Linked DNA regions of Homo sapiens. The protein of the gene in region 6 interacts with the protein of the main gene of each other region in a pairwise test. Each region holds a gene or a part of one and is shown on either strand. Other genes may lie near its edges. The genes, in order: SLC35B1, GKN1, TM6SF1, PECR, MTNR1B, MFF and MPZL1.

Region 1 (2,261 bases), on a different chromosome or scaffold from region 6:
CAGCATCCCTTTCAACAGGCAGAAGCTGGCATGGTGACACCTTGGCACAGCAAAGGATGGCAGAGGACTGCAATGCTTCAGCAGCTGGAGGAGGCAGGGGAATAGGAGGGATTAACCCAGCCTCCCTGGAGGGGACCAGGTAGACTGAGAACAGACAGACAGATGGAGGGGGAATATCAGGAAAAGTACATCACAGACCTTCCAAAGCTGATCATGATGTATGCACTGGGTCTCCACTCTGGTCTTGATAGAGCTGTGGCTGAAGGGGAGGCAGTGGGGAAATGGCAAAACAGTAGATTCTGAAACTCTGGGTTCGTTTTACCCCAGCCTCAATGAATATTTCTTTTCTGTTTTTGATTTTTAGTGGAGACAAGGTCTAACTATGTTGTCTAGGCTGGTCTCAAACTCCTGAACTCAAGTGATCCTGCTGCCTTAGCCTCCCAGAGTGCTGGGATTACAGGTGTGAGCCACTGCACCAGGCCTAAGAAAAAGACAGAACACAACTTTGTTTTTTTAATGAAATATTTGCCCACAGGAGCTTTAGGAGAGGAAGTGACTTTTACATTCTCTGGCTCTAATGGACAGCCACCCGTCCTCTAATGGGACCAGCTCTAACGGGACAAGCCTCACCCATCGGAACAGAAGCCATTAGCACAATTCTGCGATCTCACAGAGTTCCTCCCTATAATCCTCAGGTTCTTGGAGGAATCGCCCACTCAACCATGCTAACCACACCCGTGAGAGGAGCAGCCTGGGTAATGAACATCCAGCTCTGCCTCTTCCCTCCCTCTTTTATTTACCATAGACTGCTCCAGGGCATGAAGAACAAAAACCACCACTCTGTCTTGTTAAAATCCAAGTGCATTTTTTAGAATATGTGATTTTGCTTGATTTTATTTTATTAAAAAAGACTGGAACTCAGTCCCATATTCCTATTAAGTCCATTTTCCCAAGAGATGTCACTGTTTGAGATAATAACTTAAATATTCTTGATGTGGAGGTAGTCTCTCTCTTCCTAGTGGGATGTCTTCTTAGCTCCTTTCCCAAACTTGGCATCAAGACCAAGACCTATGAAAAGGAAGAAAATGGGCTTAGCCTTATGGGGGGAAATGAAACTTACCAATGATTGTGGTGGGGTGGGGTAGTCGGCCTTGTATCTCCAAAATGGGGGCTTTAAATAAAATACATGTCAGAACACTGGTTTTATGTAACTTCCTCAGAGACAAGAGAATGGCACCAGGATACTAGTTATTACAGATATCTGTATCTATATAAATATATCTATATAGAGATACAGATAGATATAGATACATATATAATACAGCAAGACTAAAAGAAATTTAAGAGTCAAAACTTCTAGGCTATGGCTGAATGTGGTGACTCACACCTGCAATCCCAGCATTTTGGGAGACTGAGGCAGGAGGATCATTTGAGCCCAGGAGTTTAAGGCCAGCCTAGGCAACACAGCAAGACCCCATCGCTACAAAAAAAAAAAAAAAAATTGGTCAGGTATTGTGGTACATGCCTATAATCGCAACTACTCGGGAGGCTGTGGTGGGTGGATCACTTGAGTCCAGGAGATCAAGGTTGCAGTGGACTATGATCATGCCACTACACTCCAGCCTGAGCAACAGAGGGAGACCCTAGGAAGGCTGGATTAGAAATAAAGCTTCCTTTTCTCCTTTTATTTTCTTTGGATACAGATTTTCACTCTGTCACCCAGGTGGGAGTGCAGTGGTGTGATCACAGCTCACCTCAGCCTCCACCTCCTGGGCTCAAACGATCCTCCCACCTCAGCCCCGAGTAGCTGGGACCACAGGCGTCTGCCACCATGCTCAGCTAATTTTTGTATTTTTTTGCAGAGACAAGGGTCTCATCATGTTGCCCAGGCTGGTCTCGAACTCCTAAACTCAAGCGATACTCCTGCCTCAGCCTCCCAAAGTGTTAGAATTACAGGCGTGAGCCACCACACTCAGCCTCTTTTCTCTTTTAAAAAAGTTTTCTCTGGGCTGAGCGCGGTGGCTCATGCCTGTAATCCCAGCACTCTGGGAGGCTGAGGCGGGGGGAATCACCTGAGGTTGGGAGTTCGAGACCAGCCTGACCAACACGGAGAAACCCCATCTCTACTAAAAATACAAAATCATCCGGGCATGGTGGTGCATGCCTGTAATCCTAGCTACTCCGGATGCTGAGGCAGGAGAATTGCTTGAACCCAGGAGGAGGAGGAGGCTCACCCGATTGGTGAGCTGAGATCGTACCAC
Region 2 (3,841 bases), about 160 Mb from region 6:
CAAAAAAATCCATCCGCAATATGCGAAAAAGAGGGAAGTAAAATTTAGAGAAGAAGAGAGAAAAGGTAACGCGTGGCTTCAGGGAGAGAAGCAGACTTGGGTCTTGGTGTCAGCAGAGTTCCTGGATGTAGTTTTTTTGATAACCAGCTGCTTTTCTTGCCCTCAGATTTTTTGAGATATTCTTATATCCTTGCAATAAACCACCCTTTCTTGCTTATGTGACTCTGAGTGAATTTCTGTCCTTGCTGATCTGAAACGTTACTGTGCACAACAACTATAGAGCAGCCTTCAGAGCAGTTGGAGAGTATTGGAACCATTCCCAGGGTTGTGGTTAGTGGTGTCTGAAGCACCTGAAGGGGTTCTTTACAGGAGACAGGTCTTGAATATAGGCTAGCAGTTGAGTCTAATGCACTTCAACAACTTGCCACCACCACATTGCATTTTTGATCCTGTGCATTCCAAGTCATAAGAAATTGTAAGAAATGTGAGTATACACTGAATTCAATGCTAAATGATTTTATTGAAACTTAAAGAAATCAAACATAACTAGTAGAGAAAAATTTCAGAATGACATGGTAAAAACCACTGGAGCCCATATTTTTTCTGCACAGCATATTCAGATGACTAAATCCATAGTGGCTTTAAAAAATTGTTTAGTTCTCCACCGTGTCTCCACAGAAGGAAATGTCCACAATCCATAGTACACTGGTCGTGTAGCACGTTCCTGAGTAAAAAAACAGGCTTGCCTCTAATAAAGAGAAAAGAAGAAGCCTATATTAATGTCTATTTAAGGACTCTTTTCTTGGAGGGGATTGGGGGAGTAGGGGTTTCCAAACTAGCTATGTGCTAATGTCAAGGTTTATCTACTTGTTGTGATGAAATCAATCAATTCAGAGATCTGGAAAATTGCCATTAAGTTAGGTCCCTAGGTAGACACTTTGTTTGTGTGCAGCTGTTCTTTGAATGTCCAGAAATTAAGTGATTGTCTGAGCTATAGAAAGTTAATAGATTCTATTAGCATTCTTCTTTCATTTAGCCATTCATGCATTCTTTTGAATATGACTTGAGTCTACTCTTGATTCACACTTAAAAGGCAGTGTTCCATAATATTTAAGAGCACAGAATCCACAGCCAAAATGCTTGGAATTGACCCAGGCAAGGATTTTGTGACCTCTCTGTACCTCAGTTTCCTCATCCATAAAGTAGGATTAAAATAGAACCTATAAGATTGCTGTGAAGAACCGAGTTAACACACTTAAAGCACATAGAACAGTACCTGGCACAGAGCAAGCACTGCACAAATGTTGGCCTTGATGACCATCCCTGCATCACTGGTGCCCACTATGGACACGCGCGAGGATAGTCTGACAATCCCACCAGCACTAACTTGGGGTGCACAGTAGGGATGCTACTCACCTTGCATCTCCTCAGCCATGTATGTTGGAATCCCACGACACATGTTTGCAATGTTTTTTCCGAACTTGCTCAGGTCATCGACTTTGTTTGGGTTGACTGAGTACATCAGGCCCTTGGGAGGTGGTCCTCCTGGTCCCTTACCCTGAAGCTGAGTGTGGAAAAGAGAGGTAGAAAGGAAGAATGGGAGAGAATGAATGCCAAGCCCAGTGGTTTGTTGACTTGAGGGGTATACGAGGCCAACAGTGAGTGTTGCTCAGCTAAATTTTTCCATAATCAAGATGAAGAAGAGCCATTTCTAGCTTATTCTGTATATCTTAGCATTTCTAAGTGTCCTAAGGGATTTAGCTGGTTTGAAACCTCAGCTTCTCATAAACACAGAAGTCTGAGGCTTAATTTATTCTGCAACTTGGACCTCATTTGGTCATCATAGATTCCTTGGATTAGACTATGTAATAATCATCTTCTGAGAATGCAGTTTATTTATTTTCTCTACCTTGTCAATGAAAGGTACTCATTTATCAGTTATAGGAATATGAACTCAGGCAAATATTTTAAAACATTATGGATCTCTTCTTTCCACTCACCTGGATTAGTATGGCCAGACAAAATATACAATACCCAGTTACATTTGAATTTCAGATAAACAATGGATCTTTTTTTAGTATATCCCAAATATTGCATAGGATATATTATACTAAAAAGACCTGCTGCTTACCTAAAATTCAAACCTAACTGGATATCTTCTATTTTCATTTGCTAAATCTAATAACCCTAACTAACTCTTGCAGAAAAATGTCCTTGGCAAAGTACTGAGGCTCCTATTGGTGTGACCAGAGCTTTGCTCCTCTAACAGTCAAGGTTTCAAGTGCTTTGCTCAGCGGTTGTAGAGGTAGGTGTGAGCCACAGCATTTGATGTGGCAGAAGTTGCCTTCCCTCAGGCAATCACCAATAACTTCCCCCTTTGTGCTGCACACTACAACATACTGTAGTCAAGAGGGAATGACTGTGATCTTCTCGTTATTTACTGAAGGATGTAAAACCTCTCCCCTCACCAAAAATAAAAAGCCTTTTATTTTTACCTTCTTTTCCTTGACCAGTGCATCAAGGGATTGAATGGAGGGCATGACTTCCTTGTTCATTTTGTGCACAATGCATGTCTTCTTTTGAAAGAGTCTGGTTGCAGCAAAGCCCTGTTAAAGTAGATGGCAAATAGTGAGGCATGTGTTCTCCGAGGAGCTTTTCTTATCAGAGGTCAGTTCCACCTGCAGAGAGAAATGGGAACTCCAAGATCGTGATGAGCTGGGATAAGAGCACTGGATGGGGCACTGCTTGGCAATCATATCTATTGCTGACATTTGTGAGGACAGACTGCAATTCTGTGAGGGCAGAGACTGAGCATCTAACTGGTTTGCTTTATTTCCAGGTTCCAGCATGATAAAAACCCCTCTATATAAGTCTGTTTTACTGAAATAGACTTTAAAAGCTATCATGTTTTAGTCTCCTTTGATCCTCACATTTCAAGGAGACAGATAAGACAAAAATTATTTTTCCAATTGACCAGATAAAATTGAAACAATAAAGAGTTTGCTATTTAAAAGTATAACGTTTGTTAAATATATAGCTGATAATTCCAGAGTTGGGTCTCCTAACTAGTGCTAAGTGTTCCTTTCTTTGCTCCTCTCTTTCTTTGCTTCTCTTTTCCTTTCCTTCTCTCTTTCTTTCCTTCTCTCTTTCTCTCTTTTTTCTTTTTCTTTCTTTCTCTCTCTTTCTTTCTTTCTTTCTTTCTTTCCTTCCTTCCTTCTTTCTTTCTTTCCTTCCTTCTTTCTTTCTTCTTTCCTCTCTTACCAATTAATATTGTCATTTACATTTCCCGAGTTTTAGGTGAAATGTCAATTTCAATCTCTTTAGAAGGTCGTAAAACCTCCTTTGAAAACAAAGTGAGATAGTCTAAGCTTTGGAAGCAGTAATGTTGTATAAGTCTTTCAGCATTATTGAGGGTATCTGCAGGCAAGGCAAAAGGATGTTCATATTTGTTGTATATACCCACAATCCCTTGAACATAGTGTTTGTTGGTTTGAATTTTAACTGATCATGCAACACTTATTAACAGTAGTTATCTCTAGGGAACAAAATCGGATGAGCAAAATGGTCACCTTTACTTATAACTGTATGCTATGTGTAATTAGAATTTATTTTTAATTTCTTTATGGTTAACATGCACATTTTTTGTTAAAAAGAAATCGTATTTTTAAACAATAAAGTGAAAATTGCACGTTGACTACCTACATTTCCATAATCCCAGATGGAATTCCAGGAGTCCCATCCGTTGTTATTGTCAACATTGGCCACATTGTGTTCATTGTTGACACTCACTGACTGCTGCCCACTTCCAGCATTGTTGTTGTCATCATTGACGTTGATATTC
Region 3 (3,952 bases), on a different chromosome or scaffold from region 6:
GATTGTCTCTGACTCTTGGCACTGTCCCCAGAGACCCTCCTACAACAGCCAAGTGCAGGACCTGCTCACCACAGGAAGAAACAGGTCCTGCAGGGACTCAGGGACAGGTAAGGGCTGCGACTAACCCCAGGATGAGAAAGTTGCTAGTCTTGGGGGGTGGGAAGGGCTGCTGATGCCCTTCTATGAACAGACACCTACTGAGAGGGGACATGCAAGGATGAGTGTGAGCAGTGTGTCTCTCTCAGTGAGAGAGGGAGACAGAACACGCTCAATCCTTTCCTGACCTCTCAATCTAATTTTCTTTTTCTGGTTTTCAGAGTTGCATAAAAGGTTTGGTGGGAAGGAAACTCGATTCAACAAAGTCAAACATACCTGAGTGCCTACGATGCACACGGCGCTGGCCTGGGCAGGACAGTACAGAGGGGTGAGCTATAGCCGGGGCAGGTAAGTTCTTACCACAGGAAAGTAACTCTCGGGAGAAAGGTGCAAACAAGGGACTGAGGGAGCTCAAAGGAGAGAGAGGGAGGGTCTGCAGAAGGTAGAAGTGGCCATAAAGTCCAGGTGCGGCTTCAACAGTCTGCGATAGGAGGAAGGCAGCATCCCTGTCAGGGAGCAGCAGGAGTCCGGGCTAGAGGCTGGAGAGGAGGAGGAATGGTCAAGGAGCAAAGGCAGGCTGGTGCGGCAGGAGCACTAGTGCGTGGGCTGGGACTGGGGGGCCGAGGCCGAGAAACACGCAGCGGGGCTGGGCAGCGAGACTTGCACCGGAGCCTTTGCCACAGTCCAGGTCAGAAAGGGCCAGTGCCAGGGAGAACTGAAAGGAGGGAACAGACACTAGAGCCCCAGGACTTATGGGGAAGCAGACAGTAGGAGGAAGGGAGTGGAGAAAGAAGAGAGGAATCAAAGGCCACGGGGGTTTTAACCTGCAAGAGGACAGGAAGAATGGCTGACACTAATTATTCAAAATGCTGTAGTGCTTGCCAGTGCGCTCCATCATGCACAGCAATACATAGTTCAGTCTGTATTCAGTAAATGCCATCACCATCTTCCCAGTGGCTGAGGCCAAAACCTAGGGCTCATCCTCAAATCCTCTGCTGCCATGCAACCCTCTTCAGTAAGCCCCATCTGTTCACCTTCCAAAATACCTACTACGCCCATCCAATTCCTTCCCCTGCACTGCTCCATTTTCCTGCCCGACAGGCTCCATTCCCAGATCTTCCCATAGCTCAAGTGTTACCTCCTCCTAGAAGCCTTCCCTGGCCACCAGCCCCCTCCCCAGTCACCCTATTTTATTATCTTCATAGCATGTCACTATCGATGTATTAATGTTTGTTGATGTCTATCTCATTACCTGCCTCCACAGCCTCTTCTGGCTTGTTCATAGCTATGTCACCAACACTTGGAACAGTGCCAAACACACAGTAGGCACTCAGTATATCTTCACTGAACTACCCGTAATGCCATTTTTTGGAGCACAGGGTCCCCCATGCACTATATTGACAGGCATGTAATATTCGGTGGCCCAGAGCAGCTGCCTCCAGGGGATGCCTCCAGAGACTGGGCCAGACCAAGGGTAGACACTGCTGGTGCCTGGTGAGCACTCAGTGTGGGTGCTGCCTGTATCAGGCGGCCAGGCAGCTGGAGAGGAGGAAGTTACCACCCTATGTACAGACACTCCACGGCCTGACCAGCTGAAGGGGGTTTGCAGCCTACAGACTGATGCAATTTCCTTAGCACCAACAGCTGAGAGACATAGCAGGTTACTTCCTCCTCCCTCCAGACAGCAACCAACATCAGCAGGAACAGAGGCTGGCGCCTGTCCCAACACCCGGCGACCCTCAGGCCTTCAGCTGCCGGCTGCAGGTTAGTCCGTGATCCCTGCAGTGGAGTGGGAGGCAGGGCTTCGAACCCAAGCCCTGTCCCCCTCCATCAGCCCCACCCATTTCCTTCACATTGAAGTGTTCTGCCTCTGCTGCCTGTCCCCATCCTACCCCAGCGCAGGCACTGGGAAGCACTTCTCCATTCACAACGCCCCTTCACAAAGAGGTCTCGGTGGAACCTTACAATAGGACGCACACAAAGTCCACTTGACCGGAAAACCGAGGCCAGACCACACCGTCAGTGCCAAACACCGTCAGGCCAGACACCGTCAGTGCCAAAGCCAGGCCTAGAACCCACGTCTCTGCCTGTTGGTTCCGGGCTATTTCTGCTAGTCATTCACAACAGTTTCTAAAATTAATAAGAAATGATAAGTATGCGAAAGTCCATACATGGAAACGTTCCCGTGAGATGCAAAAAGAACAAGGCACAAACGAGCTGACACGGCCAGGTTCGTAGTGTCCGTGTTTGTTCCGCTCCCCACCGGCCCCTGGGCCCCTCCAGGGCAGGGGCATGGCCGTATTGACGCCTGTGACCCCGGGCACCTGGCGCGGTGCTGGCACCAACATCCCGAAATGCGCCAGCCTGGGCACCTCAGGGCCCGGCTCCAAGACCCGGCCCGTGCGACCCCTGGGGCGCCCCCCTAGTCTGGCCAGGCGCGGGGAGCCCCTGCGGCCACGAACCTCTGTCCCGCGGCGGACGGTCCCAGCCCCCTCGGAAAAGTTGCGAGGCTCCCGTCGCGGCGAGCCAACTCCCGCCGCCCCTCGGCGCGACCCCCGCCGCGCCGGCTCACTCACTCATGCTGGGCCGCCAGGTGGTTGAAGACATAGGTGACCGGGATGGCCGAGAGGGACAGCACGAAGACCCCGGTGGCCGCAGAGGCACTCATCGCAGCCGCCGCGCCGCTCGCCCTTCACCGCATCCCGCTGGGCGCCCCGCCCCAGCTTCCGGCGGCGCCCGCGCCCCCTTGGCGCTTGCCCTTCGAGGCGCCTCAGCCGCGCCCCCCGCGTGGCGCCCTCAGCGGCGTCCCCTCAGCGGTGTCTCCTCCGCGCGCCCTCCCAGCCCGCAGCCGTCCCCCGCGCCTGGCCCCGTCGCCCCAAGTGCGCAGGGCCGCGGTGCAGTCCCGGGAGGCGTCCTTGCAGTGCTCCTGCCAGGGGCGCCACGGCTCAGCGGCAAGCGCCCGGCGGCGCCGAGGGGCGGCGACACCCCCGCGCAGGGACAGGTGCCCCTGGCGGCGCGCGCTCCGAGGGAGGGCCCGGGGCACGGCCGGGAACCGGTCATCGAAGAGCTGGAGAGGCGCGGGGCTGAGCTGCGGTCCGGGAAAGGTGGAACCAGATCCGAGGGTGTCAGAGGAGGAAGGGCCCGCGGGATCGTCTATGGGGGAGCCCACGGCCCAGAAGTGGGAAAGGACAAAATGCCCCTGAAACCTCGGAACCTCTCCGCTCCAGTAGCCATCGGCGGGCTGCTGCACGGAGCCGGCATCCGGTTTTTAAACCTGGCTCTCCAGTCACCAGCTGTTGACTTTGGTCAAATTACTTAACCTCTCTGTCTTTTCCCTTATCTGGGAAATGGGGATAACACACTTCATAGTGTGACTGTGGGGTTAACTGAGTTCATACCTACGAAGCGCGTTATCCTGTGCTGCTCACTACACCACCTCCTGCGATTCTTTTTTTTTTTTTTTCTTTAATTGAAATGGACATAAATGCTGAGACTCTAAGAGACTAGAGCGCCATTCATTGCTATTCCAGGAAGCATTCCTGGAGGCCAGGTGCCCACCAGCCAGCCTGCATTGGGCCCTGCAGGGTACAAAGACTGGAAGATAAGCCTCTTCCTCTGAATGATAGATGCCTACGGGTATGGAAAATATTGTGTGTCAAGTGTTGTGGCTATCTGAAGGGCAGTGAGTTCCAGGAGAACAGCTCAAGCAACTGAGGGAGGTACCGGCATGTACTTACTGTCTTTACAACTTCCAGGGAATTTAAGAGACCATTTATGTGTTTTTGCTGTTGCCATTTGAGGGGTTTATTTTATTTATTTATTTATTTATTTATTTATTATTTTTATTTTTTTTTTT
Region 4 (3,500 bases), about 11 Mb from region 6:
CCCTCATCTCTTAAGTAACTACTTATAATAAATTTTAAACCCCTGAACATGACACAGCATAAAGCTGGTGACTGCTCATTCCTCAGCTGCTCACCTGGTACCTCATACGAGTGAGTATAGAGACTCCGGCCCCCATCCACATCCACCGACTGTCCAGTGATGAAGGAAGCTGCAGGAGACAGTAGGAAGCAGACCACAGAGGAGACCTGGAAACAGAAACACACATGTGCATAGGTAAAAGCAAATACTCCCCATTTCTAACCGCCTCACATTCCCCAGTAAAGGCATCTCAAAGCCCATGATTGTAACATGAATCCAACAGTGTGTGCATGTGCACCACAACCTCACAGTACATAGACAACTTCCTTTTCCTACAATTTCCCTTTCTACCTGAGCATCACCGAAATCAGGTAGGTGACTAGGGTAAAGGTGGCAAGGTATGAGGGAGCCTTAGACGATGTCAAGCAAGCTACATGACGTCAAGAAGCCATAAGTGAACTCAGTGCTTCAGCTCTGCTCTTTCCCATTTCAAACAATTCACTTCCTTCCATGCCTTTCATTGTCCTCCACAACCCCATTTTCCATCACTACCTCGTGCCTTTTATGTTTTGGTCCCTGAAATAGTCAATGTGTCTGTTTAGCAATAAACTAGCATTCTGGTTTGTTCAGTCTGCGGTCCTGTCAGGCCAAAAGCCCAGCAACACACATTCAAAGGAGCTCTCTACAAGAGGAACTTCAAAAACTTAGCCAGGCACAGTGGCGGGCACCTGTGGTCCCAGCTCCTTAGGAGGCTGAGGTGGGAGCATTGCGTGGGCCTAAGAGGTTGCAGTGAGCCAAGACTGCACCACTACATTCCAGCTTGGGTGGCAGAGTGAGACTCCATTTCAAAAAAATAAAAATAAAAATAAACCAAAGGCACTTCAGACTCCCACTGTACTCCTTAAAAATTCAAATAGGGAACTGATGAGTTCAGCAACATCTACTCCCAACCCAAACAGAAGGAAGTTATTTCACTGACTTGTAAAGGAGCTCTCACTTGAGGCTGTGGGAAGAAGCAGAGTTTCTCAAAGGGTGATGATCCAAAACACCTGCATTAGAATCACTAGGGATGCTTACTGAGACTTCAGATTCCTAGATCCTTCCAGGATCATTGCAATTGTAAGCTCTGGGGTTGGGGTCCCAGAATCTGCAGTTTAAAAGGCCCCCAGGCAGGGCCAGGACTAGGGTGAGGCAAATAAGGTGTCGAGGGTGCAAGATTTAAGGAGGTATTCACTCTCAGGTTTGCACAAGTGCAAAATCTTCCCTCAGAGGGAGTGGGTCCTTAAATTTTGTGTCCATGCCTTGCTTGCCTCATCCCAGTCCTGGTCCTATATTCACAAGGCTATACCTCCTTGAGACTCTAAGAGCTTGGAGAGCAGCCAAGCCTTCTCTCCATCCTTGTATTCCCAGCAGCTAGTACAGTGCTGCACTATCTAAAACGAGGCCATTAGACATAGTCGCCTACTCAAACACTTTCAGTATGACTGGTCCAAATTGAGACGTGCTGTAAGTATAGAACACACACTGGATTTTGAAGACTGAGTATGGGAAAAATAATGTAAAATATCTCATTAATCCTGGATGCTCCGAGGGATGAAGAAAATCATCTCAATTTTCCATGTTGATTACATGTTGAAATGACGATGTTTTGGATGTATTAGGCTAAGTCAAATATATTATTAAAATTAATTTCACCTCTTTTTACTTTATGTGGCTCCTGGTAAGTTTAAAATTACAAATGTGACTATTAGTATATTTCTACTGGACAGGGCTGGTATAGAATTCACTATTTAAAAGGTCCCACATTACTGTGAAAAGGCAGATTGTACTGAGACATGGTAACAAGCAACAGAGCTGGTTTTAACCCTGTTTGATCCAGTAGTGACAACTCAGCCAATGAACATGTTTGTTAAAGTCAGCGCATCAAAAAGAGACTTGCTCCAATGAGCTCCTTTCTGAAATGCCATCCAGACAACAACCATCCCACCCAAGTAGTCACAACCTCTAACAATCTGTAAACCACACTCCCTCAAAAACACAAAAAACCGGCCAGACGCGGTGGCTCACGCCTGTAATCCCAGCATTTTGGGAGGCCGAGGCAGGTGGATCACCTGAGGCCAGGAATTCGAACCAGCATGGCCAGCTTAGTGAAACACTGTCTCTACTAAAAATACAAAAATTAGCTGGGCATGCTGGTGCATGACTGTTAATCCCAGCTACTCAGGAGGCTGAGGCAGGAGAATCGCTTGAACCAAAAAAAAAAAAAAAAGTTTTTGTTTCTTTTTTTAAATGTAGCTATTTTAAAGTAAATGTTATTTATGTTAACATGTACTCCTTTATTACTATTTTAAAATGAATTAATAATATTTCTTAAATTTTGGTTTTAATTTCTAATACAGCAAATATAGATAATGTAAACCACATAAAGTATATATATATACATACATATATATATATATATATTTTTTTTTTTTTTTTTTTTGAGAAGGCGTCTCACTGTCACCCAGGCTGGAGTGCAGTGGCGCAATCTCTGCTCACTGCAACCTCCGTGTCCCGGGTTCAAGCAATTGTCCTGCTTCAGCCTCCCAGGTAACTGGGACTACAGGCATATGCCACCATGCTTGGCTAATTTTTGTATTTTTTAGTATAGACGGGGTTTCGCCATGTTGGCCAGGCTGATCTTGAACTCCTACCTCAAGTGATCCACCTGCCTTAGGCTTCCAAAGTGTTGGGATTACAGGTGTGAGCCACTGTGCCTAGCCTCCCAAAGTATTCTATCAAAAATAAAAATGTAATATAATTGCCTTGATTAAAATTCATTAAATATTACTCTTAGTTTTCAGAATACAAATCCAAAGACCTTGGTTAACATGGCTCATCAAATGTTTGATTTAACAGTATCTTCCAAAATACAATGCAAGTCTATTTTGGTTCAGGAACTCTGTTTCTAGAAACATATCCCCTCACCCAAGAGTACATGATTATATTCATAATGTTCATTGCAGAATTACTGCAAGAACAAAAATATAAATAAAATCCAAATCATAATGGGATTTGATGATATTATAGTATACCCATAACAAGTTTCAGAAAATAACACAGAGTAAATTCTGTTTTCGTAAAAAAGTCAATAAATAGGCCAGGCGTGGTAGTTCACGCCTATAATCCCAGCACTTTGGGAGGTTGAGGCAGGTGGATCACCTGAGGTCAGGAGTTCAAGACCAGCCTGACCAGCATGAAGAAACCCTGTCTCTACAAAACTAGCCAGGTGTGGTGGCGCATGCCTGTAATCCCAGCTACTCTGAAGGCTGAGGCAGGAGAATCGCTTAAACCCAGGAGGTAGAGGTTGTGGTGAGCCGAGATCGTGCCACCGCACTCCAGCCTGGGCAAGAAGAGTGTAACTTCGTCTCAGGAAAAAAAAAAAAAAAGTCAACAAATACAAATTTTTAATGCATGCAAAG
Region 5 (3,500 bases), on a different chromosome or scaffold from region 6:
ATGTAACTGAATAGAAAGGAGATTGTCTGGACAATTAGAGCGCTTGTGAGGTAGTGAGTTTCCCTGTCTCAAGATTGTCCAGCAAGTTGGATGGCAAAGGAGAATCATGACTCAACTGAACTGCTGGATTCCTACCTACTCTACTATTCACAGATTTATTTACTTCATGGGTTAAAAATGACCTCATTTCCTTTCTGGTTGGTACAGCAAGGCAAAAAATGTGCAACAAGGACCTGCTTGGGATGTGGAGGGGTTTTGTGCCTTTTAATTTAATTCTCAGCCCGCTGGCTGTCTCCACTGCTGGATCTCCATCTCTGACTCATCTACACAGACCTCACTTGGTTCCAAGAACATGAGGGATTCCCTCTCTCACATTGCTTGTCTTCAGCTGAATCAGGAACCCTTGTCTCCTGAGAATTTTATGTGTCCTTTTGAAATCTGGAGGGTTGTGCTGAAGTCAGAGAAATCTGGGATAATCTGAGTCCTGCCACTTTATGGTTGAATGAATTTGGGCGAGTTCCCGAGTTCCTTTCTTGGTGACTATTCCTACATGAGCTCCTTTCTTTTCTTTCAGAGCTCTGCCATCACTTCCCCCTGCACACTCATAGGGTTGGTTCTGTGAAGAGAATCACTTCTCTCCAGCACAGGAAGATGAGTCTCCATAGGACCCGCTGGGCACCTGGCCCAGCAACACACAAGCTCTTGGCACTTGCAAGCTGAGCAGAGAAAGTCAAGAGCTGCTGGGAGCCGGTGCCAGCTCTGCCAGCTGTTTCCCTGTGAAGGCAGAGTCAAGTTCTGCTGTGTTAATGTGGCTTATCCCCTAATAATGCCCCAGAGGCTGGCAAACAGCTTGTAAATAGTAAGAAGAACACATTCAACTCCATGTGGAAAGTGATTCAATTACTATCCCCTATTACTCTGGCTGTTCCTAAAAGGCTGAAATCAACCACTTCCTGCTATAGATTCATCTGCCCAGACATCCCACTGTCTCCAGGCTTTCTTGGCACAATTCCAAATTAGATGAATAAAATTTGTGTTTTGTCTTCCATCTGTAAGAAGCCAGGTCCTATGTGGATGATAGTCAAGGGGAGATCCAGTTCTCCATCCATTTCTTCCCCAGACAGGTGAGAAATCACTCAGTATGCACACAGCACTGCAGTCACCGTGTGCATAATGAATATTTATGTCATGGGTCCTGGCGTGACTCGTTTCCATCTGCCTCCAGCAGATAGGGTGTATTAGTGGAGAGAGGCTTTGACAAGAGGGCTTTGTTTACTAACATGGAATCCCCTTCAGGATTCATACGCAGAGCGCATCCTTTCACACACACAACCATCACAGTCTCCTCCCTCTTCTCTTCCTCTCTCTTTCTTTCTGGAAAATGTATTTCTTAATGGAGATCTGGTAATCTAGGAAAGAGCCAGCCAGTGCTGAGCTATCTAATATTCGTCAGATAGGAGAATTCTGGAAGGTAAAGCTCCCTGTAACCCTTGCCCCCCTCCTCTGTGCTCACCCTCCATGCTCAGAAGAAAAATTTGGTTAGACATAAATTCTCCTTGGTCATTGAGCTAAAAGACAAGATAGAAAGAGAGAATCATCAAGTCATTTATGTGACAAATATTGCTGAGTATATACTAGGTTCTGCCTTTGACTATGCCAGATGGACAGGCTACCTCCCCTTATAAAGTTTATGGTCTCTTAGGGAAGACCATTAAACAAATAAAAACAAGGTGCCAAGAGGGATATGTTGGGGAAGTCAACAAATGATCTATGTTTTCTAACAGTGTTAAACTTTCTGTGCCTTGAGGTCTTCTTCCACTCTTCCATCTGTTTAAATGTGTAATATATTTATTGAGTGCCTACCACATTCAAGTAAGACGCAGTGATGGATGAAAGACATGGCCCCTGCCATTGAGATGCCCATGGAACTGTTAGGGAAACAAAAGAAAACAGTAGCCATTCAATTAGGTGAGAGCTGGAAGAAAGGCCAGAACAAGGTGGTGGGAACAGTGGGGAATTTGTGAGTCAACTTGGGACTGGGGACAATGGCAGGATATGGGGTTGGTCAGGCACGACAATTCACCAAGGAGCTACACAAAATTACCAAGACTTTTGCAACAGAACTCCTAACTCCCAGAATGGCTGTTTACCTCAAATAAGATGTTGTATGGGAAAGGTCATGAGAAATAACAATAATCACCAAATTAATGTGAGATATTCTTATTATGTTCTGGGGATGGGCATTTGAAATAATTGACCATATAATTTATTCACAACTTGATTTTCAAACAAACACTAAAACAATGCATTTATTGTAAGCTTGTAATTAGATTCCCAAATCTCTTGAGAGCAGATATTTTTTTCTTCCAAAGTCACATATTTATGAAAATCTTAGGATGTGTGGATGAATCATACAAGAGCTGAGTTGAAATCTAACTTTGATTTAATTAGAAAACAAAAACTGGCTAATCAATAGTGTACACAGATATATATGGGGGTATTTCAACCACTTAAAAGAAGAAAATATATTTAAGAACATAAGCATCCATTTAAAAACATAACTAAGATGCTTTACAAAATATTCTTCAATAACCATCAAAAGAGATCATTTTGAAATTCTGATAGGTAACATTTTATTACTTTACACTTAATAGCAACAAAACAACCATTGATATAACATGGTGAAGTTGATAGTATAGTTTTACATAAATGGACTCCATTGTTTTTCACAAGAATTCCTTAAGGTTGACAGCATGATTTCTGTTTTATAGATAAAGAAACAGACACCCAGTTTGTGTGAATTGCTCATAGCCATAACACAGAAGGATTGAGAAAGAACAAGAAGAGGAGAAAACCAAAGAAAAGAAATATCAAGGGAATTAAGAGAAAGGGTGTAGAGAGTTTCTTGGTCATCTACAAAAGTGAGAAAGGACAGAAAAGTGCTCATTGGACTTGGTAGTTAGGAAGGCAGTAGTGACATTAACAAGAACAAATTCTGTTGAGAGCTTGGGGATCCAGTTTTGCCCTGGAGATTGCTCTATCAGTGTTGCCTTCAAAAGAAGGAGATAGAGAGTGGCGCTTAGGAAGGAATATCCCTTTGATAGGGGACAGTGGAGGGCTTTTTTTGCCTTTTCTTTCTCTCTTAAAGGAAAGAGACTTGAATCTGGCATATAACAAGCACTAGTAATATTAGCTATTATTTGTTATTACTGTTTTATATTATTAGCTGTACTGACAGATCAAGAAAGAGGCTCATAAGGTTGGACTGGGATCCCTGTGAGATAAGATGTGAGAAGTAGTAAGGACATGAAGATGAAGAAAGTAGGACATTCCTTCTAGATGGCAAACTCCCTAAGAACTGGGGCTTTACTTCCCAATTCTCTATCTCTACTCCTCCAGCAGTAAGTATTTTAAATTGAAAGAGCCAGTAGGAGCTTTCAGTATTCTCTGAATTTTGTGGTATATCATATCCGAATGCAGAATCCAGCTTTCTGGAGATA
Region 6 (3,500 bases):
GTAATTGGCAAAACCCATACCAGGCATTCCAGAAGGGTAAAAACAAATAAACAAACAAACAAACAAATAAAAAAAACATCCTATTTGTGAAACAAAACTATATGTTAGTCTTACACTCAGAATTCTCTTTAGGCAGCACTGGGAAAACCTGAAGCTCTTACTGCTTGTGAGAATTAAAAAATGGTCAGTTCTACATCAACATAAACAAACAATCCATCTTACACTCTTCTTGATAGAGCAGCCAGCGTTAACTGCCTAAATTCACTCAAGCAAGTTTTAAAGGACAAATCCGTACTTTGCCTTTGCATTTGGGGGTTTAAATTGAACACTTTGTGTATCATTCTGTACTGATAAATAAACCAGCTATATACTAACATATTAAAGGCTACAATAATCAATATTTAGAATTATAATCTTGGGGCAACAGTATGAATGAACTAAACTCAAATCCATGAAAAAAACTTAATGGATGTTGGCCCATTAAAAATTAAAATAAAAGAAGGGTTACTTCCTCTAAGAGAAATCCTTTTGCCAGAAACAAACAATAATGAATTGTTTATTTAAACTGTAAAAGTACAAGTATTTTCTGTCCATATATAGGAAATGAGGAGGTCATCTTATAAAATAGTCAAACATAAACTTACTTCAGACTAACTGCAAAGAGTTCCTAAGATGGAATGCAGAAGGTTGGATTCTAAAACAATCTATAAGATCTCTCTCAATTCTAAGATTTTACGATCACATGAAATTGGAATACAATGAGAAAAAACCTTACATGATCCTCAGTTATAATTTAACATGAAAAATACTTATGTAGAAAGATAAAAGATGAAATTAAGTTTTTATCAATACTAGTAAAGATATTTATTTCCTCAAAAACCAGCATCAAAAACATAACTTGAGGTTCTAGTTGTTTCTCAAAAGAAATTAACATTTCAAAGATTAGTAAAAAAATTAGCTTTTCATTCATGTGTATGGCAATCCTCCATAAACAAAAAACGAAATCGGGAGTATTTTTTTTTTTTAATTGATGACTACTTTTGCCAGTGTTGTATAGATTAAATGTCCTTGTTTGGTAACATTTAATTCCATCCACAGATGAAATAAATCACCATTAAGACTGCCAAAACTACATTAGTAATTAGAGGCAATAAATAATTTAGCAATTGTCTTTCCTTTTTAAAACTTTAAGCAGTCTTGTTGGTATTTTTTACAAATAAATGTAAAAACAAAAAAGAATAAGCTCCATTTTAGCAATCAGTTTGACAGGAGCTAAAATGTACTCCACAGCTATCAACTGTGGAGGGAAACAGCGCTTTCATCTCCGTCCACTCATGGACCCAACCAAGGTTTAATGACTTCCTGTTTCTGTAGTTTTGACAAGTGAACTATTGTGGAAAATAAAAAAGTAAACATACTGCAAAGGCACTGAGAAGATTAAGTAAATGGCATTATATATATATTAGTAATTTAATAAAAATGCAATTTGATAAACTGATTCCAGTGATATTATAAAATAGCAAAGTCTCAACATTACCTTTTTAAAAGAAAAGATTAGAAAATTTTGAAGAAAGCACTGATGTTTACCATGCTTCATTAGTAATAGCTCTACCTCATGCTTACATGAAATCTTATCACATAAGAGTTACATAAACAACACCAGGGCTGGGCACAGTGGCTCATGCCTATAATCCCAGCACTTTGGGAGGCCAAGGTGGGCAGAGCACTTGAGGTCAGGAGTTCAAGACCAGCCTGGCCAATATGATGAAACCCTGTCTCTACTAAAAATACAAAAGTTAGCCGGGCATGGTGGCATGTGCCTGCAGTCTCAACTACTTGGGAGACTGGGGCAGGAGAATCGCTTGAACCCGGGAGGTGGAGGTTGCAGTGAACTGAGATCACGCCATTGCACTCCAGCCTGGAAGTCACAGTGAGACTCCGTCTCAAAAGAAAAAAACAAAACAACCAAAAAAACACCAGCCAATTGTCAGAATTAAAATTTAAATAAAAATTTACTTGGCATAACTATATCATTATTAAAAGTAAGTTCAAAATCAAGTACCTCTTTGAGTTTTCATAGGAATAATGTTTCCCAACCTGTGAATTTAACCTCTTCGGTGAGGTATCACTCTTCCAAAAAATAGGGTAAAACAATAAAGAGAAAAAATTTTCACTAAAACACAAATATATTAATTTCTCTTGGAATTGTAAATACAGAGGAAATTTTAATATATTGCCACTATCTATGGCAACTGAATAGTTCCTGGAAGCATAATAATAGAACCAGAATAAGAGGAAAACTGTTGGCTTTCGGTGCAGTTTCTTCTGTTGCTTAAGAAGTGTATTAGCTATTGAATACCTGTATTATATACCAAAACGTTGTGCTCCATGAGTGAGTCATTCTCATACCTTATTTTGTCACATGGAAAGAGTGGGTTTAATAATAGCAAAAAAGTGCTTCCAAGCATCGTTTTCATCTATGGGATTATAAAATAAATGACAAACCACACTTATGCTCCATTCTCCTTCAGAAACAAGATAGAAGAAGAAAAGACAGTGCGCTGAAATTAAAAAAAAAAAAATTGGGATCACTGCACCAGGTGACGTTGAATCTGTTGAGAACTATTATACCAACCAAAGCAAAATAAACAAAAAAGGATGCTTGGTCCTTATGTGCATATTATATTTCAGGTTCCTTTCACCAACACATGCAAAATCATATACAACTTCCTTAGATGGTCTAGTTTTTTTTTTTCCTTAATAAAGCATATAATGACAGTTTGAGAAATCCTGAAACAGAGGTACTAAAAAGCCAAACAGGAAGATAATTAGGATAGCATACGTCAATTACCTGGTGAATAGATTAGTATTAACATAATCCTTCAAAATCAAAACAACTACTTGTCAAAAGCAGAGCAGATAAAATCTTACGTGTACTCCGGTGCAGAAATCGGTGCCTGGAACCTTGAAATTTTATTTCTTGGGGCAGAATCTGATCTGTGCCACCTTAAATAATAATTATGCTTCTTTTACATATTCAGCTTTTATAACACAAAGAAAAAGCTAGATCTGATTTTACTGTTTAGAATTCACTTTTGCGCTAATAGCTGACCACAATCTTATTGCCTCTTCGAAGTAATTAAGAAAACAAAGGCTAGTGCTCCTGCTCTCATACCCGTTCGCACTTTTATTCTTAAAGCCATGGAATAAAATAAAGTGGAGACAGGCAAAGTTTCATGCACTATGACGCACAACAATTTCATGTTACAAAGAAAACACTAAAGTAGGTAAAGATAGTAAGAGTTTAATAATTATTTTAATAGAGGTATTATATCAATTGTTTTTTCCTCACTACGTTAACAACACTGAATAATATGTTCATTATACAAAATTCTAAAGTTAGTAAGATGTAGATTCTTAAAGATAAATTGTAAATTATAAAATTAACAACAGTAGGAAAAGAAAGGGCAAAGTTACATTATTAACAAAATACATACATA
Region 7 (2,219 bases), on a different chromosome or scaffold from region 6:
GTCCCGGCACCGCAAGAAGAAGTGAAGGCTCTTGCTCTCAGGGAGCTCCGAAATGTTTCATTTATTCACAGGAACTGTTGAGAAAGCAGTGAAAAAACAATGCCCCTTTTCTCTGTAAAAAACGACTGTAAGGAAACATGACACAGGCCTGTCTACAATGTGTGTCCTCTGTACCTCAAGCACAGCCCTGGTCAGCTATGTGGTTTTCATGGTGGCAAAGGCTCACCAGGAGTCTCAGCTTGAAGGATGGTGACAATCTCAACACCCTTCCCCTCCAAACATAAGAGGCCTTCCAAAGGCTCCTATAGTTTTCAAAATAGATGCCCAAAAAGTTTTAGGATGCAAGGCAGAGTTGACCACTTTGTGGAAATGTCTCAGGGCCAGCACTGTGTGTCACTCTCTTGGGCTGGGCCTATGAACATGGAAGGCAGCAGGGCAGGCGTTTTTTTCTCCATTCCACACAGAACACAGAGCAGACGCTGCCCAGCTTCAGACATGTGTGGTGACCAAACCTGATCCCTGTTGACTCACACAGATGTGGCATGTAAGGTGGAGCGTTACAAGAATAACAAAAATAGCTCCTCAAAAAACAAAAGGCTTCATGTATGCAACAGCATTAGTTTTGAAGCTCATATGCCCTTTATCTTACCACCTTGTGCACACCTCAAAATCTCAATCCTGTTTTATTCCCTTTGTGAATTCTGTTGGAACTCAGCCTTCAAACATCCCCAGAAGATGACAAGATGAGAAGAAAAAGCAGCAGCTCATAATGGACTCCAAACTACAGGGAGAAAAAGTAACATTGCCCCTCACTCCCACTCACCCCAAACACGTTCTGCAGACCATCTAGACAGTAATTCTTTCCATAACTGTGGGCTTTCGAACAATTTTAAAAGGGGGGAAATTTAAAAAAAAATTCAGAAAATGGGAGAAATGACAACATAAGTGTTGAATGATCTTCACCACACTTTCCATTCCCAGTAAAAAGTAAAAACTCATAGATTTTAAGTGCGGTGGGGAGTAGTGAATAGGAGAAAACAAGTTTTAGGGAAGGACAGCCAAACTGTCTAATCTAGGCTCTCATTAACCTCAACAGTCTTTGAGGCACCATGAAGCTGTTATAAAGCCATGACTGATGCTGCCTCTTGCTGGAAGCATGACTGACGCTTTATAAAGAAGGTGATTCTTGCCAGCTGCAGTGGTGCAACTATAGTTCGTTCCAGCTACTCGGGAGGCTGAGGAGGGAGAATCACTTGAGCCCAAGAGTTCAAGGCTAGTCTGGGCAACATAGTGAGACTCTACCTCAAAAAAAAAAAAAAAAGCGAAAGAAGGTGATTCTCTAGAGAGCGAGCTCTGGGAGATTGGAGAGCGGCAACATAATGATACCATTTCTGCCTACTTAGAAGGAAAGAAACTCCTCTCCTTTAGCTGTATGGTGACTGTTATTTCAAGCAGAAAGGACATCAGCAAAGAATAAAACCGATACTTTTTACTCTCCACGTTACAAAAGTTCTCAAGCAAAGCTTGGATTTTCTACTTAATCAGTATTGATCCAACTGTGTCCAGAATGAAGTGACCTTCGGCATTTATCCTTTGCTAATCTTGCTATTATGAATCCAGAAATTGATATGACACATTTCAAGGGTGCAAACTTAAAGTAAGTCTACACAACATGTAAGGCTAACAATTGCCCCATATTTTAGTGAGAAAAACTTCAAAAAAACTTCTCAAATTGTTTTCAAGTGGCATAGCCAATGGGTATTTTTTAAAAGCGGCAGACAAATAAATGGTACTGATACTGTGCTAAAGGCCACCCTGGGTATGCTTCCATCATAGCATCTCCATCCTCCAACTACAGTAAATGCTAAGACTAATCAGTCTTAAGCCCTTAGATTAAAAGGCCATGTCTACTGGAAATACTACAGGATCTGCTATTGTCTCCATTAAGGCAAACCATTTCTAAATGATGGTGAAAGGAATGTTTCTGAAATCTCCCAATTGTAAATGACCTGAAAAGAAAGTACAAAAACAGCAAGACAATGGGTACATATGTAGAATCATACCATCTTTTCATCATGCAACACTGGCTCCTCATATCAGGATGACTAAATAGAATATTTATACATATCCTTTGTACACATCTTTCTCTCCCTCTGTGAGTACACGTGTACTTGTCCTTGCCTGGGTCTCCAAGGCTACATGTGGTAATGGGCTACATT

What was found.
Region 1: the proteins of MFF (region 6) and SLC35B1 interact in binary tests that used the Homo sapiens proteins (3 or more experiments, as listed by UniProt).
Region 2: the proteins of MFF (region 6) and GKN1 interact in binary tests that used the Homo sapiens proteins (3 or more experiments, as listed by UniProt).
Region 3: the proteins of MFF (region 6) and TM6SF1 interact in a two-hybrid assay, tested with the Homo sapiens proteins (one large-scale study listed by BioGRID).
Region 4: the proteins of MFF (region 6) and PECR come close enough for resonance energy transfer, tested with the Homo sapiens proteins (one large-scale study listed by BioGRID).
Region 5: the proteins of MFF (region 6) and MTNR1B interact in a two-hybrid assay, tested with the Homo sapiens proteins (one large-scale study listed by BioGRID and IntAct).
Region 7: the proteins of MFF (region 6) and MPZL1 interact in binary tests that used the Homo sapiens proteins (3 or more experiments, as listed by UniProt).

The regions. Positions count from the first base shown.
Region 1 is NC_000017.11:49,700,443-49,702,703, forward strand, and holds the end of SLC35B1 (solute carrier family 35 member B1), read right to left. Parts: intron 1,069-2,261; coding exon 1,016-1,068; 3' UTR 501-1,015; downstream 1-500.
Region 2 is NC_000002.12:68,977,636-68,981,476, reverse strand, and holds the end of GKN1 (gastrokine-1 precursor), read right to left. Parts: intron 3,841-3,841; coding exon 3,703-3,840; intron 2,607-3,702; coding exon 2,496-2,606; intron 1,565-2,495; coding exon 1,417-1,564; intron 749-1,416; coding exon 654-748; 3' UTR 501-653; downstream 1-500. UniProt on the Homo sapiens protein: Has mitogenic activity and may be involved in maintaining the integrity of the gastric mucosal epithelium.
Region 3 is NC_000015.10:83,106,493-83,110,444, reverse strand, and holds the start of TM6SF1 (transmembrane 6 superfamily member 1), read right to left. Parts: upstream 2,801-3,952; 5' UTR 2,765-2,800; coding exon 2,673-2,764; exon of another isoform or gene 2,559-2,672; intron 1-2,558. UniProt on the Homo sapiens protein: May function as sterol isomerase.
Region 4 is NC_000002.12:216,043,810-216,047,309, forward strand, and holds part of PECR (peroxisomal trans-2-enoyl-CoA reductase), read right to left. Parts: intron 207-3,500; coding exon 95-206; intron 1-94. UniProt on the Homo sapiens protein: Participates in chain elongation of fatty acids. Catalyzes the reduction of trans-2-enoyl-CoAs of varying chain lengths from 6:1 to 16:1, having maximum activity with 10:1 CoA. Has no 2,4-dienoyl-CoA reductase activity.
Region 5 is NC_000011.10:92,976,151-92,979,650, reverse strand, and holds part of MTNR1B (melatonin receptor type 1B), read right to left. Parts: intron 2,493-3,500; exon of another isoform or gene 1,961-2,492; coding exon of another isoform or gene 1,864-1,960; intron 1-1,863.
Region 6 is NC_000002.12:227,342,251-227,345,750, reverse strand, and holds part of MFF (mitochondrial fission factor), read right to left. Parts: intron 3,007-3,500; coding exon of another isoform or gene 2,932-3,006; intron 1-2,931. UniProt on the Homo sapiens protein: Plays a role in mitochondrial and peroxisomal fission. Promotes the recruitment and association of the fission mediator dynamin-related protein 1 (DNM1L) to the mitochondrial surface.
Region 7 is NC_000001.11:167,787,982-167,790,200, reverse strand, and holds part of MPZL1 (myelin protein zero-like protein 1 isoform a precursor), read right to left. Parts: 3' UTR 1-2,219. UniProt on the Homo sapiens protein: Cell surface receptor, which is involved in signal transduction processes. Recruits PTPN11/SHP-2 to the cell membrane and is a putative substrate of PTPN11/SHP-2.